3 linked regions of the Homo sapiens genome follow. The protein of the gene in region 3 interacts with the protein of the main gene of each other region in a pairwise test. Each region holds a gene or a part of one and is shown on either strand. Other genes may lie near its edges.

Region 1 (7,713 bases), on a different chromosome or scaffold from region 3:
TTGAACTCCTGGGCTCAAGTAATCCTCCTGCCTCAGCCTTCCAAGTAGCTGGGACTACCGGCATACATCACCATGCCTGGTTAATATTAAACATTTTTGTAGAGATAGGGTCTCACTATGTTGCTCAAGCTGGTCTCCAGCTCCTGGCCTCAAGCAATCCTCCCATCTTAGTCTCCCAAAGGGCTGGGATTATAGGTGTGAGCCACCATGCCTGGCCCAATTTTATATATAAAGATATATGTGTGTGTGTATATATATATATATATGTGTATATATATGTGTGTGTGTGTATATATATACACATACACCTTTCCTAGAAGAGGAATTATCTATCATTTTCAAAGTTATTTACATTTTAGCCTTTTTCATACTTATTGTCAAATTGTCCTTCCCCAAAGTTTTAAAGTTTACACAACCATCAACAGTGTATGGAAGTTAAGGCATGAAGAACTCACATTGCTTTTAGCACTACTTTTACACACTTCATCTATAAATCAACATCTAAAAGAGTATTTCCGTGTGACCCATGCACGGTTCATTTGAGCATTCACAGGGTGTTCCCCACAGCCTGGTACATTACAGCTTTTGTCATAACATGAACAGCAATCGGCTCAAAACACTGCCCATTGTGATGCTGATGATGAGACCTCCCTAATGTTCTAAAAGATTGTTTGGTGTAACCACTTTAGCTCAGACCTTTCTTTTAACCTTGCCTATCATGTTTCGAGTCAGAATTTAAATACTGTGCAGTTTAAGCTACAATACGCTTGGCCTATAACTTGGTTCCAGGCATTTATATTTATGTCACTTTTGTCTACTTATTATACTAACAAGGTGGAAAAAGCAATCCCAGTCTCTCCAAAAGGTAAAACTCTCCTGTTTTTTTGGATATTATTAGAGTTTTAAAATTAGGCTAGATAAATTATAGTACCCTTAGGAATAAGTGCATAAAGGGAGTTTTATGAAATATTTTAAGAAGAACACATTTAAAAATCCAAACTGAAATATAAAATGTAATTTCTTAAGAACTGGAGGCAAGAGACATTACAAAAATAAAATATTAAATTGTTGTCTTAAGACATAATTTTAATTAATATAAATAGAAGTATTTAGTCTTATTTAAACTGCATATTTTTTCATCACAAAAGCAATGAACAGAGCATCTTCTCTCTTGTCTCGTAATCTTTTGAGTCAAAATGCTTTAAATTCCAACTAATCTCAGTTGAAGCTTCTATTTATCAGGCTATTTCCTTAATGACTTTTTTTCTGATGTGTGGCTTTAGGTGGTTGCCATTAATGAAAAAATACAAAGACTACAGATGTGAAATGTTGGAGAGGACAATAATTACAATAGTTTTAAGTTTTCACTGATACAGATTCTAACAGGGGTGTGCAATCAATGACTACCAAAAAGTCACTTTAATTAAATAATCTTACCCTAGAGAAGAGTGTGCTCCCGTATAAAGCTTTATTTTTCATTTTTATTCTTGTTCTTTTTTCTGTGGCCCAAGATCACTTGGCAATTTGATACTGATTTGGCAGAAATAAATATTCTATGAATATTTTTCTACTCAAAGTGAATACAGTTTTGTTGGCTGTGATACTCTATACCTCTTAATTTCAAGCTGTGACGTTTTTGCCAAACAACTGAATTTAGATTTGCCAAACAACTGAATTTAGATATTCCTTTTGCCGTGTCGTTGTGTGAACATTGCCCTAGTGATAGCTTCATATTTCCCTCATCTCATCATTCAGAAGCTATTTATCTATTTTTTTCCACTGCCTCCTTCAAACCCCCTCCCCCAACATTGAATGCCTGTTCAGCCCCCGCATATTCATCCGTATTTATTCCCGTAAAGATAGTGACACTTATGGTTTATTCTAAGACTAAATCTGTGTTGCCCAGTGACTAAGGACTTAAGCATGCACACTGCTTCTATGCTTACCCTCCTACCTAACTTGACTACTCAACATTTTTATTTCATTCCCTCAGAATCCCCTGTTTTGGCACAGTTCAGTTAACACACCACTGCCAGGCCACTAATTGATTTCTGAAACCTGACATTTGTTTTTTGTTTTCTCCTATCTTCCCTAATGGTACAGCACTACTAAGCGGGAAGGAATGCAAAGAACTAGAAAGTTCAAAGTAATTGAGGATCTGTCCATTCACACTGTCTGGCTTCAAGCCAATGTAGAACCTGGAACATTTGAAAAATATTTATCAAGTTTTAACCCTTTTTACTAAGTCGGTGAAACAGGTTTGCAGCTGTAGCATTTATGTTAAAAGCAACAGCAAGGAAACTTGGTCGAACATGTTCTTTATATGTTCAGAATCACATGGCAAATGTCTCCGAAAAGGATTACTTTCCAATTTCCGTACTATTGTACAGTGCTAAGCTAGTTATTTTCTGTGAGACTGCAGAGCAGGGCATTTCAGAGAAACTATTACTTAAAAGTGGCAGCCCTATTTCATGAATCTTTATGCCCAAAATGGAATTTTAAAACCTGCTACTGTATTGGAGCAAAAAGGAATATATTCAGTTACTATAAGAACCCCAACGCTAGCTTCATATCTATATTATGAAAAGTGGAAATATGAAAAATTAACAAGACTAAAAATATTAAAAACTTAGTTGTATGGTTTTTTTTTTGCAATGAAAAAGCTTTTGTAAATGAAAGCATGTTAAAAAGTGGTGTGAAATTATAGAAGCATTTCCAGTAAAATACATGGATTTTATTGCAGTGAAAACTTAGGTTGAAAGACCGGGCCACTGAAGCTCTCGTAAAAAGACAAAAGGAAAGGTCTAGATAGGTTTAAAAGCACATTAAGATACAGCTACCGAATGTATTAAATCTAAGTTAGATTTAGCTTAAAGTTACAAGAGCACAAAAGTTCTATTAAGAATTATCTACATCACATTTAGGTTTGATGTTATCAGAATTAAGTAACTAAAAATCTTTCAAAGCTCAATTTTTTAAAAGAGTTACATTAAATCCCATCCTAATTCTATAATCTGTTTCTAAGCTAATTAATTACATGATAGGTTTTACATTAGAGAAAAGCAGGACAGCTTTTTAAAGATGAAGATGGACAGCATGGGGCTGCTTGGTTAGAGAAAAACTTGCAAAAGCACTTATTAAATAATACTTTGATAACATGAAAGTAGTCATCAGCCATTCTCTGAAGGCAGTGATCACAGCTATAAAAATGAATCATGTGTCAACAGGAAGAGAAGGAAAAGGAGAAAAACCCAGTTTACAGCATAATTTTATATTTTCTAATAATAAATACATTTCTTTATGTGCATATTAATTTTCTACCCATTGAAAATGAGATCCATACCTTTGATAGATACACTCTTTGAAGTGAACGTTTTTATCCAAGACTTTTTTTTAAAGCTGTTTTACTCTGAAGTGATGAATAGGCTGTGGTATATGTAAAACTGTCTAATGGTATATTGTGTGTCAACATATGTACATTTGTAGTAATATCACAGGCATTTTTATTGCAGTTTATTGTTCCGTCCTCCCAATAAGCCAGATAAAATCATGTACAAGAACATTAAGGATTAAGGGAAGTGGTTTCCTTAGGTGATTGCTGGCAAAAATTCACCCTCCCATTATAACAACATAGTAAATGGATGGTAATATATTTGGCTATTACTTTCCAACAAATTTGGATTCCCAGTTTTCAGAGCTGCTCTGTGTCTATGTTTGCGGCTTTTTGATTGTCTCTTCGTAGGAAAAGGTGCCACAATGTGAGGTAAATGTGCTAGGTTTCTGCTTTGTAAATATTAAAGTCCATTTTTTGAACATACAGTGCTAGCAAAAATAAGTCAAAGATGTAATGTCTATTTAAATACACGTTTGAGCTAGTCGTGCTTAAATTAGATTCCATGCTTCGGCTAGAATCAACACGGCTTAAATATTAGAAACTTCAAAATTCATATGGCCCAAGCCCTCCTCCCCACACACGGATGGGAAGTAGAAATGTGTGGGAAAACGTCTAGCAATTAAAATCCTGAAGGAGTGGGAAAAACCCAGGCTTTTATGCAAGGATCTGAAAAAACGCTTGCCATCAAATCTTTTATTCAGGCATTCTGAATTTGCCTTGTTAAACGGATACACTCACTGCTAAAGATACACAGGGACAAGAGCTGTTTTAAATTTGTTTATCACACCGCCCCTAGTTTTCTGCTAAAGAGAAGTACATTTTGGATATTTAAAAGTACACACTCATTAGACAAATCTCTAAAAGCCTCAGCGCCCCTACCTAGCTGCCTTCTGGGTTTCAGCTTTTGAGTTTCAGGTCCTTGCACAACACCTAAGACGTGCAATACTCTTTTTCTTCCTAATCCTGGCAGAGAACAGTGCGAAGAGATCTCCCTCCGCGTCTCCACCCTAATTCCCCCTCTTCCCAGATTCCACCCGCTCCGCTACTTCCCTCCGCCCCCGGCTCCGCCAGCCCAATCTGTCAGAGAAGTTGTGTACAAACTGCGCGGCCGCCCTGCGCGCGAAGCTCGTGGCCCGAGAGGGGTGCGGTCGGGCCGACGGAGGCGGGGCCCTGGCTGCCTCTCTCCCTGCTCATAGGCTGGCCGCTCAGGCCTGGCCGGCCTCGGGGCCTCGGGATTCGCGGCGGCGCTGCCAATCAGGCGATCGGGCCCCGCCCCCCCGGAGTTGGGTGAAATAGAGGCGGGCGTCAAGTGTCAGTAGTCGCGGGGCAGGTACGTGCGCTCGCGGTTCTCTCGCGGAGGTCGGCGGTGGCGGGAGCGGGCTCCGGAGAGCCTGAGAGCACGGTGGGGCGGGGCGGGAGAAAGTGGCCGCCCGGAGGACGTTGGCGTTTACGTGTGGAAGAGCGGAAGAGTTTTGCTTTTCGTGCGCGCCTTCGAAAACTGCCTGCCGCTGTCTGAGGAGTCCACCCGAAACCTCCCCTCCTCCGCCGGCAGCCCCGCGCTGAGCTCGCCGACCCAAGCCAGCGTGGGCGAGGTGGGAAGTGCGCCCGACCCGCGCCTGGAGCTGCGCCCCCGAGTGCCCATGGCTACAAGGGTGCTGAGCATGAGCGCCCGCCTGGGACCCGTGCCCCAGCCGCCGGCGCCGCAGGACGAGCCGGTGTTCGCGCAGCTCAAGCCGGTGCTGGGCGCCGCGAATCCGGCCCGCGACGCGGCGCTCTTCCCCGGCGAGGAGCTGAAGCACGCGCACCACCGCCCGCAGGCGCAGCCCGCGCCCGCGCAGGCCCCGCAGCCGGCCCAGCCGCCCGCCACCGGCCCGCGGCTGCCTCCAGAGGACCTGGTCCAGGTAGGAAGAGCCGCTCCCCTCCCACCGCAGCACTCCCGGGCTCGGGCGTGTCCCGTTGCTGCGACTCGCGGGCGACAGGGGCCGCTCCAGGCTGGGGCGTGCGTCGGGGCGCACCGGAGCCGGTGCTGGGTGGGCAGCCCCGCCCTGCACGCCTGGCCGGGGCCCCGCGTTTCGCTGAGAGTAAATGGGGGGGGGGGCCGGGGGTGGGAAGGATGGAGGGGAATCTGCCCCGGCGGGTCGGCCTGGGAGAGGTAAGAGGGAGGGAACTGGGTGCTCACGCGCACCTTAGTTGTTTTTCTTACACTTGAGGGACGAAACCTTGTACCTTACGCTCAGTTTTACTTAAATTACGCCTTCGCCTGTACCGCTCTCCAATGCCAAGGCATTGGAGCCCTCCCCCCCATCCCCATCGTCTCGGGTTAAGTAGAAACGCAAATTGGGGTGCTGGGGAGAGGTTCCCCAAGGTTTCATACCCGGTGGCTCAACCTGCTTTAGAAGCGATTGCGGGCCGCGTTTGGAAAATGAGAGTTAGGAAAGCTAAGGTTGTGTCGGAGCGCTTATTTTTCCTTAAAAAAAAAAAAAAAAAAAAAAGACCGGGGGTGTTGTTTTCTTCGTGTGCACGTAAATTTCCTCCCGGAGCCGCGTTGAAAGCTGGCAGTTGGCTTTTACACTTGCCCAGCAGCCGAATTAGAGCAACCGCCTGTTTCTTTCGCCCACGCAGGGAGTCATATAGCCCAGAAAAAACTTCCCGGGACTTTTAGCCTGTCCCAAGGAAAAAAAAATTGGAAACATACCCACATGCAAACAGCTGGAAGAGCTAAAATCAGAAACCACTAACCGCCGCGGGAGCGCAGTGCACGAAAGGGTTTAGTTCAGTTTATTTCAAGACACTTCATTTAGTAGCTCTTTGGCGTGTCGTATATTTGCTACCCAGCGCCTACTCCGTGGGGTCTGCCAGGGTCTTGCTGTGAGAGGGCAGTGGCGTTTGTCAGAGATGTGACTCACATGATGAGAGCGTTAATTTTTATTTTTAAATCATGTCTATCCGGGAAACCCCGTCCGCATCCACACCAAGGTCCGAGATGAAACGCATTTGAAATGAAGTAGTAGCAGAAAATGACTGTCTTATTTACCTGTTAAGGTGCCACAGCTAATATATGCGCCATTCCATCTAGTTGGTTTTCTTATCTTTCGAAATTTCCTTTTCAGTGTTAAAAAATGTAGGCTTAAGTTATACTAGGAGAGAAGATAGCTGGAAAAGGCTTGAGGCGACTTGTTACAAGCTGGTTTATAGCCTAGAAAAGAGATCACCGTTTGAAAAGTATTTGGTTATTTCAGTTTGTCAATTTTCTGCTCTGGAGGCACTAAGAAGATAAGGGATGACTGAGCTTTTTACAGAGTAGGGGGGAATGTAGCATTGGCCCACTGAGAAGGACATGATAAATGTTTTGCTGATGACTGTGCTAGGGATACAGCAGCCTCCCCACCCACGGGCTCCTTAGCAGCACTCTACCAAGGGAGTGATTTTCCCCTAGGTAATTAAAGATCTGTTTTAGATAGGGATATGAATAGGAACATTTCATTATCATATTAACCAATTACAGGATCTGCTGATGAAAATCAACATTTAGATCAAATATTGAATGTGAAATTGTTTTGTTTCAGTGGATACAAGGTTTTGCTTAGAACGTTGTGTTTAATTTCTCATTGAACTGTAAACAAGAAAAGACACTGAAATAGCCAAATAATATTTTTATATTACTTTTGAAGTATCTAGTCAAGAAAAGAAACCTGTGCAATATTTTAAAGGTTTGCATCGTTTTTTCTATTAAAAAAAACCACGCTTTTTAATGTTTGTGACTTAAACAGAATTGAGGTAGTTTGGCAACATTTCAATACTGTACTCTAATTGCAAACTTAACTGTGTAATGGGGCAGGGAATCCTGCTTGTACAGGGGTGATGGTACCTTGTTATTGCATCAGAATGGAATGTTTTAAGTTTGCTTTCTTTTTTATTCTTGATTTGCGTCTTTCACTTTTGGGGGTGATTGGGGGAGCAGTTTTACCAGTTACACAGAGTTTCATAAGGTTTTGGTCAACCAGTTATTACACAATCGACAAAATAAGCCTGATATGTTTATAAGCAACACTGAGGAGTTTGCCCTAGTACCTTACACAGGGATTGGGGGAATTTTTAGTAGGCGCCGATTGTTCGTTCTTCCCGAGATGGTGAATCAGGTGGATTATGCATTTTATATCTCTTCTTTTTTAGACAAGATGTGAAATGGAGAAGTATCTGACACCTCAGCTTCCTCCAGTTCCTATAATTCCAGAGCATAAAAAGTATAGACGAGACAGTGCCTCAGTCGTAGACCAGTTCTTCACTGACACTGAAGGGTTACCTTACAGTATCAACAT
Region 2 (7,233 bases), on a different chromosome or scaffold from region 3:
CTCTCCCTAGACATGTGGGGATTATGGGGATTATAATTTAAGATGATATTTGGGTGGGGACACAGTCAAACCATATAAAATGCTACATATCCACTGGGGATCAGCTGCAGTTCTGCTCCATGTCATCTCTAGTATGGAACTTATGCTGATGGAATAGCTTCTCTCTAAAACAAATTGCTTGTGGCAGACAGAAAAGAGACATGATGAACGCACAAGCTAGCTCTTATAAATTCTGCTTGGAACTGACATTCCTGCTTACATTTTATTGGCTGAAGCAAGTTACCTATCTGCCATCAGTGGGGCCAAGGCAGCAGCACATCACGGAGGGGAACCAGACTGTTTGGCATATCATTAATAGGAATAGATTTTGTGGCAAAAGAAAATGAGTGGTAACCTGATTAAAAAATTGGCAAAGGATTTCAATAGACATTTATCTAATACCATACATAAATGGCCAATAAGCACATGAAACTATGCTATCAGGGAAGTCCAGATCAAAACTACAATGAGATACCACTTCACATCCACTCAGATGGTTGTAATAAAAAAGACAGACAATGGTAAGTGCTGGAAAAGATGTGGAGAAACTGGAACCCTTATATGCTGCTGGTGGGAGTATAAAATGGTGTAGCTGGTTTGGTAAATCATCTAGCAGATCCAGAAAAATTTAAAAATACAGTTACTATGTAGCCCAGCAATTCTACTCCTAGGAATATACCCAAAATAAATGAAAATATATATCCCCACAAAAACTTGTAAATGAATGCGCATAGCAGCATTGTTCATAATAGTCAAAAAGTGGAAATAGTCTGTATGTCCTTCCACTGATGGATAAATAAAAGGTGATTATATATTCTATACAATGGACTATTATTCAGCCTTAAAAAGGAATGAAGCGTTGATGCATGCTACAACGTGGACATACCTTTTTTTTTTTTTTTGAGATGGAGTTTCACTCTGTCACCCAGGCTGGAGTGCAGTGGAGCGATCTTGGCTCACTGCAAGCTCCACCTTCTGGGTTCACACCATTCTCCTGCCTCAGCCTCCCCAGTAGCTGGGACTACAGGCGCCCACGACCACGCCCAGCTAATTTGTTCTATTTTTTAGTCTAGACGGGGTTTCACCTTGTTAGCTAGGATGGTCTCGATCTGCTGACCTTGTGATCCGCCTGCCTTGGCCTCCCAAAGTGCTGGGATTACAGGCGTGAGCCACCGCGCCCAGAAACATACCTCGAATATATGCAAAGTGAAAGAAGCCAGTTACAAAATACCACATCTCATGACTCCCTTTATACAAGGTGTCCGGAGTAGGCAAATCTATGCATAGAGAAAGTAGATTAGTGGTTGCCTATGGCTGAGAGAATTGAGGGAAAATGGAGAAGTGAGTACTGGGTTCCTTTCCGGGGTAAAGAAAATGCAGTGATGATTGTACAATTGTGTGAATATCCTAAAAACCACTGATTTGTATGTAGGTTACATCTCAATAAAGCTGTTTTATATGTATATAAGAAAGATGAATCATTTTTATTTTTGTCATATTTATTTTTATTAATTCAAGTGGAGATGACCAGTAGGTAGTTAACAATGTGGCCTGGATCCCAGGAGTAGGAATCAGGGCTGGGGATATATATTCGGAAATCCAGAGCATAAAGATGCTAACCAAAGTTATGTAAAAGGCAGTGGTCATGTAGAGAGTGTGTCCAGTGGGAAAAGAGTGAAGGCTTATACCTATTCCTGTGGGATAACAATATTTAAAGGCTGGGAGAAATAAGAGAGACTTTAAAAGAGATGGAGAGGGAGTGGTTAGAGATGGAGAAGTGCTACCAAGAGAGTAAAAATGAAAGGCAAGGAAAAGTATTTCCAGAAGGAAGGAGGGTCATGAAGAGAAATTAAGTTAGGTAATGATGATAATGTCCATAAGATATATAGTAGGGAAATCCCTAGTGACTTTTTTTTTTTTTTTGAGACAGAGTCTCGCTCTGTCGCCAGGCTTGAGTGCAGTGGCATGATCTGTGCTCACTGCAACCTCCGTCTCCCTGGTTCAGCGATTCTCCTGCCTCAGACTCCTGAGTAGCTGGGATTACAGGCACATGCCACCACGCCCAGCTAATTTTTGTTATTTTTAGTAGAGATGGGGTTTCACCATGTTGGTCAGGATGGTCTCGATCTCGATCTCCTGACCTCGTGATCTGCCTGCCTCGGCCTCCCAAAGTGCTGGGATTACAGGCGGGAGCCACCAGCCCAGCCCAACTTTTTTTTTTTTTTTTTTTTTAATTGAGATGGAGTCTCGCACTGTCACCCAGGCTGGAGTGCAGTGGCATGATCTCAGCTCACTGCAAACCTCTGCTATCCAGGTTCAAGGGATTCTCGTGCCTCAGCCTCCCGAGTAGCTGGGACTATAGGTGTGCGCCACCGCACCCGGCTATTTTTTTTTTTTTTTTTTTTGTATTTTTGGTAAAGACAGGGTTTCGCCATTTTGGCCAGGGTGGTCTTGAACTCCTGACCTCAGGTGATCCACCTGCCTCAGCCTCCCAAAGTGCTGGGATTACAGGCGCGAGCCACGGCGGCTGGCCCCTAGTGATGTTGGAAAGAATGGTTTCAGTGGGGTGGTGGGGCAGAAACCAGAGTGCAGTAAGTCCAGACTTGAGTAGTGGTTGAGGAATTGGAGGCACTCTTGTTTAGATAATTGGAGAAATGTATTATAGGAAAGAAAGCAGAGGTTGAAGTGGAGTCTGGTAGGTTCGGCGGGAGATTTCAAGATGGGAGAGACTTCAGGTTGTTTACATGCTTATGAGTATGAAAGGAAGTGGGGATAATTAAGAAATGAGGCCCTGACCGCCTTTTATAGAATTGTAGTATGCTCCCTACTCTATCCCCCTTATCCTACTCATTTTGTTAACTGTAGTGCTTATCATGTTATATAATTTACTTATTTATTGTGTTTACTATTTCTTGTGTTAAAAGCAAAATATTAGCCAAATTAAACAGAGTTTGAGCAAAGAATTATTCCCGAATCAGGCAGCCTCCTGAGCCAGAGTAGGTTCATACAGACTCCCGCAGAGCCACATGGTGGAAAAAGGTTTATAGACAGAGAAAGAAAAGTGAGGTAGGGAAACAGCCAGAATGGTTATAGCTAGACGTTTACCTTATTTGAACACGGTTTGAACAGTTGGCCGTCTTTGGCCAAAACTTGGTGATTGGCGCAAGAGTAGGTTGCAGTGTATTTACACCTCCATTTAGGTTATAGTTTACTATTTACGGAGAAACCTTCAGGCTGAACTTAAAATATGTAAGGACACAGCTTTTGGCTAAACTTGATGTAACACTTGCCTGGTTTCACCCTGCTCCAAGAAGCCGGAGGTTTTTTAGAGATTTCTGTTTATTTTGCTCACGTATTAACTCCAAGCATCTAGAATACCATCTGATATATAGTATGTGGTCAATAAACATTTGCTGAATAAATGAAAAAGCGAGTTTTCTAAGAAGGCAAGAGAGAAGGGGAGCCAGAACATAGCCATATGGTTCCTGCCCCCACAACGCTTGTGAGTCCAGGACTTCCCGCCTACTGCGGGTGGGGAGGGAGAGGGAAGGGTAAAGAGCTGTTTCCCAGCTGGATGAAAAGGGACGGTGAATATTCGTTTGATAATTACAGTCTGCATTGAATCTTTTTTCTATTTTGTTCAGACTGATTTAAACGTTAAAGTATTTAATTCATCATATGTTTGTCTTTGAAGTAGATGAAACGTATTTGTTAGGTCTCTGTACTTCGACCTTCCAAGCCTGGCACACAGAAGGGCCCTGATAAAGCTTCTCGGAGGCCTAGTTGTGTTCAGCGCAGCCCAGCGTGCTCCTGTCAAGTGCTTTCGCCAGCACAGATTTCTGTGAGGCGCGTCTCTAAGTCCTTAATCTGTGGATTGACTGTGGTGATAAGGCAGGAGGAGGGAAGAGATTGAGTACGAGAAAGACCTGTGTGGCCAAAAGCGGCGGTGTAAGCTTAACCTAGGAAAAGAAACAGCTTCGGAAACGCCGCGCCGGGACATCGAACCAAATCAACCCTCACACCTCCCGCCTGGGCGCCCCAACGGCGCGAACGGGCGTGCGCCTGCGCGCGGACAACACAGATCTTGCAGCCGGGAGCGGCGCGGCAGCGGCTGAGATCACGTGGTGCGCCGGGAAGCCACCCCGCCTCTCCGAGGCCTCCCTGCCCCGCCCCGTCACGCCCCTTTCCCGGCGGGACGCTTTGAGCCGCCCCGAACTAAGCAGGGCGGTCGGGGGTGAGTGTCCGCGAGGGGCGTGCGTAGCGCAGACCCGGGCGGGTCCGGGTTGGGGCGCGGGCCGTCTGAATGCCTTGCGGGGACCAGGGGACAAAATGGCGGCGGGGTACGCCCTTTCACCCCCTCCCCTCACCTGGGAGTGCGAGTTGAGCGGGGCAGGGATCGTTGCTGGGGGAGGGGAGCCGCGGTCGCCTGGGGAGGGCTCGGAGGTCGGCCTCGGAGGCCTCGGGACGGGGGCTGGGGTGAGCCGCGTCCGGGCCCTGCCCTGCGGGCTCATCTGGGGTGTGAGGGACGTGAGACCCCGCACACTACGCGGTCTGAGGGGTGAGTGGGGGGCTGCCGCGTCACCTCACTTGGGGGCAGCCCCGGCCGCGGGTGACGAGGCTTCTGGAATGTCTAAATGCGAGGGGCCCCTGGAGGAGCCTCCCTTCGTTTGACAGGTGATCGTCTTCGTCATCTGTCATTCCCAGCGGGGTTTACCATGCTTTCCCTGTACTCTGATCTTAGCTCTGCCCAGGAAACGGGGCAGGAATGGCCTCTCCGTCTTCCAGATGCGTGCGCTGAGGCCTGGAGGGGCGAAGAGCCTCTCGCACCTGGGAGTAGTGGGACCCAGCCTCCTGCCTCTGTTGCTGCTCTTTTCCAAAACAGCACTTCCTTGGCGCCTTTCCTCTACACCGTTTTCCAGGCGCGTTCGTGGGAACGGCACCAGGGAGGAACGGGATTGTTAGAAAGCAGGCACAAAACTGGTCCTGTAAGCAACACCTGCTGCTGTTAAGGGGGCCCCAGCTGAGATGAGGCCGCCTGTTTGTGAGCAGCTTCCTGTTGCTGGTGGACTGCATCTCTTATTCTAGTTGTGACAAGTTATTTTCCATGAAAATAGCTATTCATTAATAGTCATTTTACCGAACAGATACTAATTCCTTATATGAATTATAGTTTGTCTTAGTTTATGGATTAATTTCATCATTAACTTTTCATCTTCATAAATAATCTGGTAGAAGGATGGATGGGCTAGGAGTAATACTTATTTTATGAATGGAGAAACGGGGGCTCAAAAGGTTATTACTTGCCTTAGATCACCAGCTGGTGAGTGGTAAATCTGGGGTTAAGTTTTCTGACCTAAGGTTGGTAGTCTGACCACTGTCCCACTCTGGCCTATACTGGTGCTCTTTCCCTTCTGTTATTTCTGTTAACTATGACTTTTCCTCAAAGTTTGTTGGTTGCAGATGATTTATGCCACTTGAAGAATGATATCCACTAAAGAATTAATATTTTTAATCAATCAAAGAGTCAAGTTTTAATGTGATTTGGAAGGTTGTCTGTGGGAGAAGTAATCTGATGGCTTTGAAGGCAGACTGTTTTGAGTTTGAATCTCAGCCCCAACCCTTGTTTTTGGCAAATTAATTTTTCTGAGCCTTTCTTATCTGTAAAGTAGGAATAATATCCACCTCATAATTTTGTTGATAGTAATAAATTAGGTGTCTGTAAAGTATTGAGAACTGTTCCTAGCCCATGGTAAGCCCTCAACAAATGCTCTTTTCCTTCTTTCTCCACACTCCCTTGAGCTGCATTAAAAATATACTCTATGTGTCTTTGGTCCATTTGGGTCTGGTATAGCAAAATACCTCAGACTGAGTGGCTTATAAACAACAGAAATTCATTTCTTGCAGTTTTGGAGGCTGGGAAGTCCTAGATCAAGATGTCTGATGATTCAGTGTTTGGTGATAGCCTGCTTTCTGGTTAATAGATGGCACCCTCTAGCTGTCTCCTTACATGGTGCAAGGGTGAAGGGGTCTCTCTCTGGCCTCTTATAAGGGAATTTATCCCATTCATTAAGGTTCTGCTTTCATAATACAGTCATCTCCCAAAGGCCCCACCTCCTGATATGACCTTGGAAACTAGGATTTCCACAAGAATTTTGAAGAACACAAACATGCAGACCATAGCATTATGGTTAATCACTTGGTTGTTCAGGTCAAATAACCATGGAAGTGTAATCAGCAGTACTGTACAAATGTGTTTATAAATAAATTTTGGTGACTGGTCCAAAGGATATAGTATTCTAAACAGACTTTAAAAATGTTTGCCATTGGTGCTTCATAGGTATTTTAAGAACTCCTAAAAGATTGATATTAAGGTCATTAATGTCTTCATTTAGCTGCAGGAATGTTTTAAAGATAAGTAAGATGAAGGGACTTGAGATTCTGTCATTTCTTTCACTTTCTTTTTTTTTTTTTTGAAACCGAGTCTCACTCTGTCACCCAGGCTGGAGTGCAGTGGCGCAATCTTGGCTCACTGCAAACTCCACCTCCCAAGTTCAAGCGATTTTCCTGCCTCAGCTTCCTGAGTAGCTGGAACTACAGGCACTCACCACCATGCCTGGCTAATTTTTTTTTGTATTTTTAGTAGAGACCGGGTTTCACCATGTTGGCCATGCTGGTCTCAAACTCCTGACCTCAGATGATCCACCCACCTCGGCCTCCCAAAGTGCTGGGATTACAGGCGTGCGCCACTGCACCTGGCCTCTTTCACTTTCATACCTGACCACAGCCCAGACTAGTTTTAAAGGATAAACAACTTCTTTGGGAATCACATGTGAATGTTATTTAAACACTTAGAAAGTGGGGGTATTATTTAGGGGGAAGTTTAATAGAATTCTCTGTAAGGGTACAATCTGATATCCATTGTGGAATTGGCATTTCTGAAATTGTAGAAGAGAAAACTGTAAATGGCTGGCATAGCAAAAATTAAATCATTAATAAAATTCTGTTTGCAGTTTCTGCTGGATGGTAACCTTTTTTTAAAAAAAAATTCAACTTATATAGTAGAGGGTACATGTGTAGATTTGTTACATGGGTAAATTGATGCCGATGCTTGGGGTCCCAATTATCCCATCACACAGGCCATAAGCATAGTACACAACAGGTGGTCTTTCAGCCCATGCTCCCCTTGGCCTAGTG
Region 3 (7,957 bases):
TATGTGTGTGAGATACCACAGTTCTCATACACTGCCCTGTTTATTTCTGATACCAGTATAGTAGCTATCCGTAGCTATCCTTCTTCCTATTTTACAGATAGGGAAACCGAGGCTTGTTGATGTGGGTAAAGTCAGTGCGTCATCAGCCCTAAAGTTTTATTGGGCATCAGGGGATGTGGGCACCACAGGGAACCATGCCTCGCACCCCTGTGGCCACTCAGCCTCCAGTCTGGCCCCAGTCAGCACTGGGTCCTCTTCCCTCTGCCCTGCAGCCTCTGTGCTTGCTGGCCCATGAAGCTTCTCGGTCCACTTTTGGCCTTGAACATTTCAGCTGCCCTCAACCCCCGGGGCTCCCTGCAAGCCATTACCCCAAATCCATCCACATTCTCCACGCTCCTCCTTTCTTTCTTTTATTTTTTGAGACGGAGTTTCACTCCTGTTGCCCAGGCTGGAGTGCAATGGCACGATATCATCTCACCGTGACCTCCACCTCCTAGGTTCAAGTGATCCTCCTGCCTCGGCCTCCCGAGTAGCTGGGATTACAGGTATGCGCCACCACGCCCGGCTACTTTTTGTATTTTTAGTAGAGACCAGGTTTCACCATGTTGACCAGGCTGGTCTTGAACTCCTGACCTCAGGGGATCTGCCCACCTCGGCCTCCCAAAGTGCTGGGATTATAGGCGTGAGCCACCGCACTCGGTCTCCAAAGACTTTTCACTCCTACTTAAATCTTTTCTGGGATAAATCCTTGTCATTGAAAGACCTCGTTGTTTCAAAAGAGTTAATTAAATATTACCATTTAATCTCCAAGGTGTTTATACCTGTCCTCCCTAACTGCTATGTGAAGTCCATCAGGATGGGGACCTTGTTTTGTACTGGTTGCTTTTCTTCATGATAAAATTTATTGTATTGACATGCTTCTTAAAAATTATGTATGTATTTGTTTAGAGACAGAGTCTTGCTCTGGCACCCAGGCTGCAGTGCCATGACATGATCACTGTTCACTGCAGCCTCGACCTCCTAGTCTCAAGTGCTCAAGTGGTCCTCTTACTCAGCCTCTTGAGTAGCTGGGACTATAGGTGTGTGCCACCATGCCCAGAAAATTTTCTTTTTTCTTTTTTTTTCCTGAGACAGAGTCTTGCTTTGTCACCCAGGCTAGAGTGCAGAAGCACGATCTCTGCTCACTGCAACCTCTGCCTCCCGGGTTCAAGCAATTCTCCTGCCTCAGCCTCCTGTGTAGCTGGGAATATAGGCATGTGCCACGACACCGGGCTAATTTTTTGTACTTTTAGTAGACATGGGGTTTCGCCATGTTGGCCAGGCTGGTCTCGAACTCCTGACCTTGTAATCTGCCCACCTCAGCCTCCCAAAGAGCTGGGATTATAGGCGTGAGCCACTGTGCCTGGTCATAATTTTCTATGTATTTATTTTTGAGACAGGGTCTGTGTTGCCTAGACTGGAGTACAGTGGTGCTCTACTGAAGCCTGGACCTCCCTGGGCTGAGGTGATTCTCCCACCTCAGCCGCCTGAGTGGTTGGGACTATAGGTGTGTGCCACCGCACTTGGCTAATTTTGCTATATTTTGTACAGATGGGGTTTCACCAAGTTGCCCAGGCTGCTGTCGAACTCTTGAGCTCAAGCAATCTTCTCGCCTCGGCCTCCCAAAGTGCCAGAAAAAAATAATTTATTTTTGGTAGAAATGGGGTCTTGCGGTGTTACCTAGGCTGGTCTGGAATTCCTAGGTTCAAGCAATCCTCCTGCCTCAGCTTCCCAAAGTGCTGGGATTACAGGTGTGCACCACTGTGACCAGCCTGATACGCGTTTTAATGTGTGTGTGTGTGTGTATATATATATACACACACACACATACACACACATATATTTTCTTTTTCGAAGGGGGAAAAGCTATTTGTGGCTAGCCTACCACTTACAATGTAAAATTCATGTCTGTGCTGCTTACATTTCAAGATGAGCTCACAATCACTGTAGGGACGTATTGACATGTAAAATGTCCCATGATAGTACTGTCTGTCCACACTGAGATGGAACTAAACCTCCATCAATCTGCAAGCAGATAGGTTACATGTGACAGTGCCAAGCTGTGCACATATCTGAAATTCCAGTCTTTGCTGAGATTATTTTAGGTTTTATTATGAGATGCCCATACTAACACAAACTATTATTTCTTCCTTTTGAACAGTCATTTATATAACCAGTAAAAAAAGAGAATAGAGGCTGGGCTTGGTGGCTCATGCCTGTAATCCCAGCACTTTGGGAGGCTGAGGTGGGTGGATCACCTAAGGTCAGGAGTTTGAGACCAGCCTGGCCAACATTGTGAAACCGCATCTCAACTAAAAATACAAAAAATTAGGCATGCATGGTTGCTCATGCCTGTAATTCCAGCTACTCAGGAAGCTGAGACAAGAGAATCACTTAAACCTGGGAGGTGGAGGTTGCAGTGACCCTAGATTGTGCCACTGCACTCCAGCCTGGAGGACAGACAGAGAGACTCAGTCTCAAATAAGAATAGAGAATCCAGTCAGATTTTCCTTTGCTAACTGATCATTTGCTAGAAATGACATGCAGTAATACAATTAAAGTTTAAGAAACACAAAAAATGAGCCCAGCACAGCGGCTCATGCTGGTAATCCCAGCACTTTGGGAGGCTGAGGCAGGAGGACTGCTTGAGCCCAGGAGGTTAAGGCTGCAGTGAGCCATGATTGAACCACTGCACTCCAGCCTGGGTGACAGAGCAAGACCCTGTCTCAAAAAAAAAAAAAAAAAAAAAAAAAAAAGGGCAGTATTTCATTTTGAAGTATAACAATTACAGCCATTAACCAAGTGTTCCAGTTGTCTAAAATGAGGCAGGTGTAGACGGAAAATTTTCCCTGTACTCTCTGAAGGTTTCACAACTGAGTCTCTGAACTAAGCTGACAATAGACAGATTCGTAAGAGAAAAAGTATACAAATCTATAACATGTACTAGGGCATCCCAGAATCCAGTGAGATCTGGAAGCTTATACAGCCCCTTCATAGAAGAGAGGGGAGGCAGATGCAGGCAGCTCAGGGGAGAGAAAATGATTTTTTGCCTTCAGAATAGGTGGTGGCCTGTGGCAAAATCTGTCTGGGTGTGCAGCTGACGTCCCTTGAAGCTCTTCTCCCGTGATCCTGGCTCATTCTTCCCTGGATGAGACTTCCAGGGAGGGGGTCAAGACAATTGAGTCCCTTTGGGATGATCTGTCTTTATGTAAATAATGGGGGATTCACAGAATGCCCCTCCCTGCATTGGCAGGTCCCCATGTGCCCTCAGTTTGAGGGCATACTAATGTGGTAATCAGTGAACTAGTTAGTAATCAGTATCCTAATATGGCATAATTCAGGGTGGCATTTCTCCAACTCTTTCATTACTAACGAGCTATTTTAAACCAAAAGTGATTCAAGTGTTAAAGTGCCTTTTACTTGAATATCTCCCAGGCTTAAACGATCACGAATTCATAAGCGTTGTTAGTTCAGAAGGTGGCTGAGCAGGCCCCCGGAATTCAGTGTCAGCATGCCACAGGATCTGAAGTTCAGGAAAGGTGTAACAAAAAGGGATTTTTCTTTTTTCTTGAGACAGAGTTTCGCTCTTGTTGCCCAGGCTGGAGTGCAATGGTGTGATCTCCGCTCACTGCAACCTCCTCCTCCTGGGTTCAAGCGATTATTCTGCCTCAGCCTCTGCAGTAGATGGGATTACAGGCATGCACCACCACACCTGGCTAATTTTTTTTGCATTTTTAGTAGAGACGGGGTTTCTCCATGTGTCAGGCTGGTCTCGAACTCCCAACCTCAGGTGATCCGCCCGCCTTGGCCTCCCAAAGTGTTGGGATTACAGGCGTGAGCCACCGCACCCAGTTGAGATTTTTATTTCTTAAAGGAAAGGATAAGGTGGGCCAGGACTAAGACAACACAGTAGCAAACATCTGGCTGAATGCTGGAGAGGAAGACAGTGGGAGATCCAGGCCAGGCTCCATGGACGAACTGCTTGTTGGCTCCTTAGGCTTTGGGTCTGCGGGACCCTTTCGCTACTGGGAATGGGAGCCTGTCTGACTGCACTGGGTCTGAGACTCCCTGCTCCTGCTGGTCACCATCTACACGCATGTGGTGTTGGTCTCCAGGGTTAGAACCAGAACCCCTGAGGACGCGGGAAAGGCTAGGAAGCCTGGGGATGACCTAAAGTCCAGCTATCAAAATGCGCCGCGTTTTCAGAAAAACTACTGCCACGATTTAACCTAAAAAGCTTCATCTGTATTTTCTGCCACAGTTTGCTTCCGTTTCCTTCAGTCACTATTCCCTGGCGAAGTCTCCACGCGCTCCCGTTCGCCGGGGAACTTAGGGTATCCGGGCTTCCCTAAATTGACAAGCGGGGGCCGGCGCCTTCGCCCGCCTTCGCTGGCCGCCGCTTGGTTTGTTCTTCTTCTCCTTCGGGGACTTCTCCGCCCGCGCCCGCGCCCGCGCCCCAGCTTTCGTCCCGCTGTGCGGAGATGCCACCCAGCTCCACCGCAGGACCGCGGAGCGAGAGGCGGCAGACGCGCTCCGGGGGCCGCCGGTCAAGAGGAAGATGAAGGGCGCGACGACTTCGCGGTTTCCAGAATGGGCTCCTTCTGGCCCAACAATAAGTGCCATTTGGAATCTTCTCGGCCTTCTCTGTGCCTTCCGCGCGTCTGGGCTCCCCGGTACCGTAGACCCGGCCCCGAGCTCCGCCCCCTCGCCCTGGGCTTCCCCGCCCCCTCGCCCCCAGTCTCCTGGGCTCTTCGGGGCGGCGGAAGAGCCGAGAACCTTCGCGAAGGTGGGGCGGGCGCCCCCGAGGTTGGGCCCGCGGTATGGGCAGTGGAAACTGCGCATGCGCGGCGTCAGGGTCGGGCGGAAGTTGACGCCGCCGTGCCGCCGCCGCGTGACGCATTTCCTGTTTGTTGTTGGAGAAAGGAGAGAAAGGAAAGCGCGAGGAGCCGCCGCCACCACCAGCGCAGCAGTCCTGGAGCTGTGAGGAGATTCGGGCCGTCACCCTGCCTCCCCTGCGTCCCGCCACCGGCCGCTTCTGTCCTCGGTGAGGGTCTGTTCCGAGGGTCGGGGGAGGTCGCCTAGGGCCCCGCGCGCGCCCGGCAGACGGCGGACCTCACCCGGCGCCTGGCAACAGCGCGGGGGGTGACCGGGGTCGCCGGCCGGGGAAAGGACTGGACGGGGCGGGGGCCGTGGCCGGGGTTGCGGGGCGAAGGGTGGGCGGGGTCCTCTGGGTCAGGTCTGGGGCCGGGGCCGGGGCTGGGGTCTGGGGCCGCCCGGCCGCGTCCTCCCCGCCCGGCGTCCTTGCCGGAACGCGGCCCAGCCTCCGCGGCGGCGGTTGGGGGTGGGGCCCGGCCTGGGAGCGGCCGGCTGGGGCTCGGCTGGGGCTCGGCGGGGCCGGCAGCGTGGGAGGCGTGGAGCGCCTTCTTTTTCTAAGGCTCCCGCACTCGCGTCTGAAACCAGAAACGGGAGTGGCTTGCGGAGCAGGAATGCCGCAGCCGTGCCGCCAAGTTCGGAGGGAGAAGAAGCAGGTGGGGGACCGCAAAGCCCTGTTTCTAGAACTCCGGACGGATTGTTCAGAAGTTTGTGGAAGAGCAGGCTGCCTTTCTCACTCAGAATGTTTGTCTGCTTTGCTTTGCGTTAAAGAATCTGCACCGTAGTTGATGCAACTGAAGTTTATATAAGAAGTTTACATTAACTCTTACCTAAGGAAGGTCAGTGACACACGCAGTGTAAACTGCAAATCATATATTGGCTCGAGAAAGGTTTTGGCACTAGCGAATTTTTTAAAGGATGGGTTTGCTAGTCAGACGTAAACTTCTGTGCTAACTTCTCACGTAAACGGGGCAGGAAACAGCGCAAGTAGAACGATCGTGCCACCACCGAAGGGGTGCCGCCTGCGAGCTCGGAGGCTTCAGCCTGTTTGGGAAGAGTAGGCTGAGCGGCGCTCTTTGTAGTTTTCAACGTTTTTATTGAGTTGCGAATTTTAGTAAGGATTTGTCGCTACAATTTAAGCCAAATTATTGATTTAGTAGAAAAGTTAGAGTGAAGACCGAAGAAAGGAAACAGACGTTAACCATTAAAGCTTGATTGCTGCTGCTTCGTGTTTAACCGCACTTTTCCAAATAGTGTTGCGTATCAGAACGATTCATGATTTCTGAAAGGAATTATATGCAGCCGCCTTACTCCTCCGCCAGTCCACCCGTCCCGCGTTCTCTCTGGGTTTACTCCAGACTTCCTTTTTTTTTTTTTCCTGAGACGGAGTCTGTTCTGTTGCCCAGGCCAGAGTGCAGTGGCGCGATCTCCACTCACTGCAACTTCCAGCTCCCAGGTTCAAGCGAGTCTCCTGCCTCAGCCTCCTGAGTAGCTGGGGTTACGGGTGCTCGCCACCATGTCCGACTAATTTTTGTATTTTTAGTAGAGACGGGGGTTTCACCGTGTTGGTCAGGCTGGTCTCGAACTTATGACCTAAAGTGATCGCCTGCCTCGGCCTCCCAAAGTGTTGGGATTAGAGGCGCGAGCCACCGCGCCTCGCCGACTCCAGACTTGTTTCCACTCCTGAGGGCCTTAAGCTCCCTTGGAGTTTGTGCTTTCACATTTCTTTCTGCCTTCCGTGATAAAGGGATGAATAGTTTTTATGCACGCTTCAGCGAGCTGCGGGTTTTTGTGGATTACGCAGGCTGTGAAATTTGGGAAGTAAGTTGCCTTAAGTTGGTAGATGTGGAGATTTGACAGGAAGTGGGAGAACAAAGGGGTTGGGAAGCTTTTGGAAAGTGTCCAGGCTTCATCTGTGCTGTGGAAGGTGAGAAAGTTGGGAATTCCAGAGGGCAGAGCTCTTAAAGAATTTGAGATGAGTTCAGCACTCTCTTCAAAACAGTGTTTTAAAATTTATTTTCTTCTGGATATGAAAGTGTTAGGTTTGGGAAGTAATTCTGGCTGTAGGACAGTTTTTCCGGAACACTAGGTGGGGAGTGTTGAATGTTGTGAAGACTAAAATATGCATATGGTATTACAGTGTGATACCTGTTACTGAGTGGCGTACATTAGCTTTCATTTTTAAGCAAGCCCGTAATTCCCTTCTATTAACTCTGTTTTGGACAGTGGTACCCGTCACCCTCATCAGTCTTCAACCTAGATAACCTAAATCCAGGTCTGAGGTGGGGGTGGAATGGTCTGTTTGCACCTTTTTTTTTTTTTTTTTTTTTTTTTTTTTTGAGACGGAGTCTTGCTCTGTCGCCCAGGCCGTAATTAATGCGGTGGCGCGATCTCGGCTCACTGCAAGCTCCACCTCCCGGGGTCACACCATTCTCCTGCCTCAGCCTCCCGAGTAGCTGGGACTTCAAGCTTCCGCCACCACAGCCGGCTAATTTTTTTGTATTTTTTTAGTAGAGACGGGGTTTCACCGTGTTAGCCAGGATGGTCTTGATCTCCTGACCTCGTGATCCGCCTCCTCGGCCTCCCAAAGTGCTGGGATTACAGGCATGAGCCACCGCGCCCGGCCTTTTGTGTGTGTGTGTGTGTGTGTGTGTGTGTGTGTGTGTGTGTGTGTGAGATGGAGTTTAGCTCTTGCCCCTGCTGGAGTATAATGGCACCATCTTGGCTCACTGCAACTTCGCCTCCCAGGTTCAAGCGATTCTCCTGCCTCAGCCTCCCGAGTAGCTGGGATTACAGGCATGCGCCACCACGCCCAGCTAATTTTTTCTATTTTTATTAGAGACGAGGTTTCACTATGTTGTTCAGGCTGGTCTCGAACTCCTGACCTCAGGTGATCCACCCGCCTCGGCTTCGCAAAGTGCTGGATTACAGGTGTGAGCCCGCGCGTCCGGCTGTCACTTTAAAGAGTATTATAAGAGGGCACTTCATAACTTGGGCAGGTATTTTTAGTCATCCTGAACGTGTCGCTGTGGACTGGGTGTCACCG

What was found.
Region 1: the proteins of DNAJB6 (region 3) and KLF5 interact in binary tests that used the Homo sapiens proteins (3 or more experiments, as listed by UniProt).
Region 2: the proteins of DNAJB6 (region 3) and SCAPER interact in binary tests that used the Homo sapiens proteins (3 or more experiments, as listed by UniProt).

What each region holds. Positions count from the first base shown.
Region 1 is NC_000013.11:73,054,294-73,062,006, forward strand, and holds the start of KLF5 (Krueppel-like factor 5), read left to right. Parts: upstream 1-4,711; 5' UTR 4,712-5,034; coding exon 5,035-5,295; intron 5,296-5,388; exon of another isoform or gene 5,389-5,507; coding exon of another isoform or gene 5,508-5,546; intron 5,547-7,567; coding exon 7,568-7,713. UniProt on the Homo sapiens protein: Transcription factor that binds to GC box promoter elements. Activates the transcription of these genes.
Region 2 is NC_000015.10:76,902,339-76,909,571, reverse strand, and holds the start of SCAPER (S phase cyclin A-associated protein in the endoplasmic reticulum), read left to right. Parts: upstream 1-4,231; 5' UTR 4,232-4,273; exon of another isoform or gene 4,274-4,368; coding exon of another isoform or gene 4,369-4,379; intron 4,380-4,780; exon of another isoform or gene 4,781-4,824; coding exon of another isoform or gene 4,825-4,958; intron 4,959-7,233. UniProt on the Homo sapiens protein: CCNA2/CDK2 regulatory protein that transiently maintains CCNA2 in the cytoplasm.
Region 3 is NC_000007.14:157,332,062-157,340,018, forward strand, and holds the start of DNAJB6 (dnaJ homolog subfamily B member 6), read left to right. Parts: upstream 1-4,942; 5' UTR 4,943-5,083; intron 5,084-5,492; exon of another isoform or gene 5,493-5,750; intron 5,751-7,957. UniProt on the Homo sapiens protein: Has a stimulatory effect on the ATPase activity of HSP70 in a dose-dependent and time-dependent manner and hence acts as a co-chaperone of HSP70. Plays an indispensable role in the organization of KRT8/KRT18 filaments.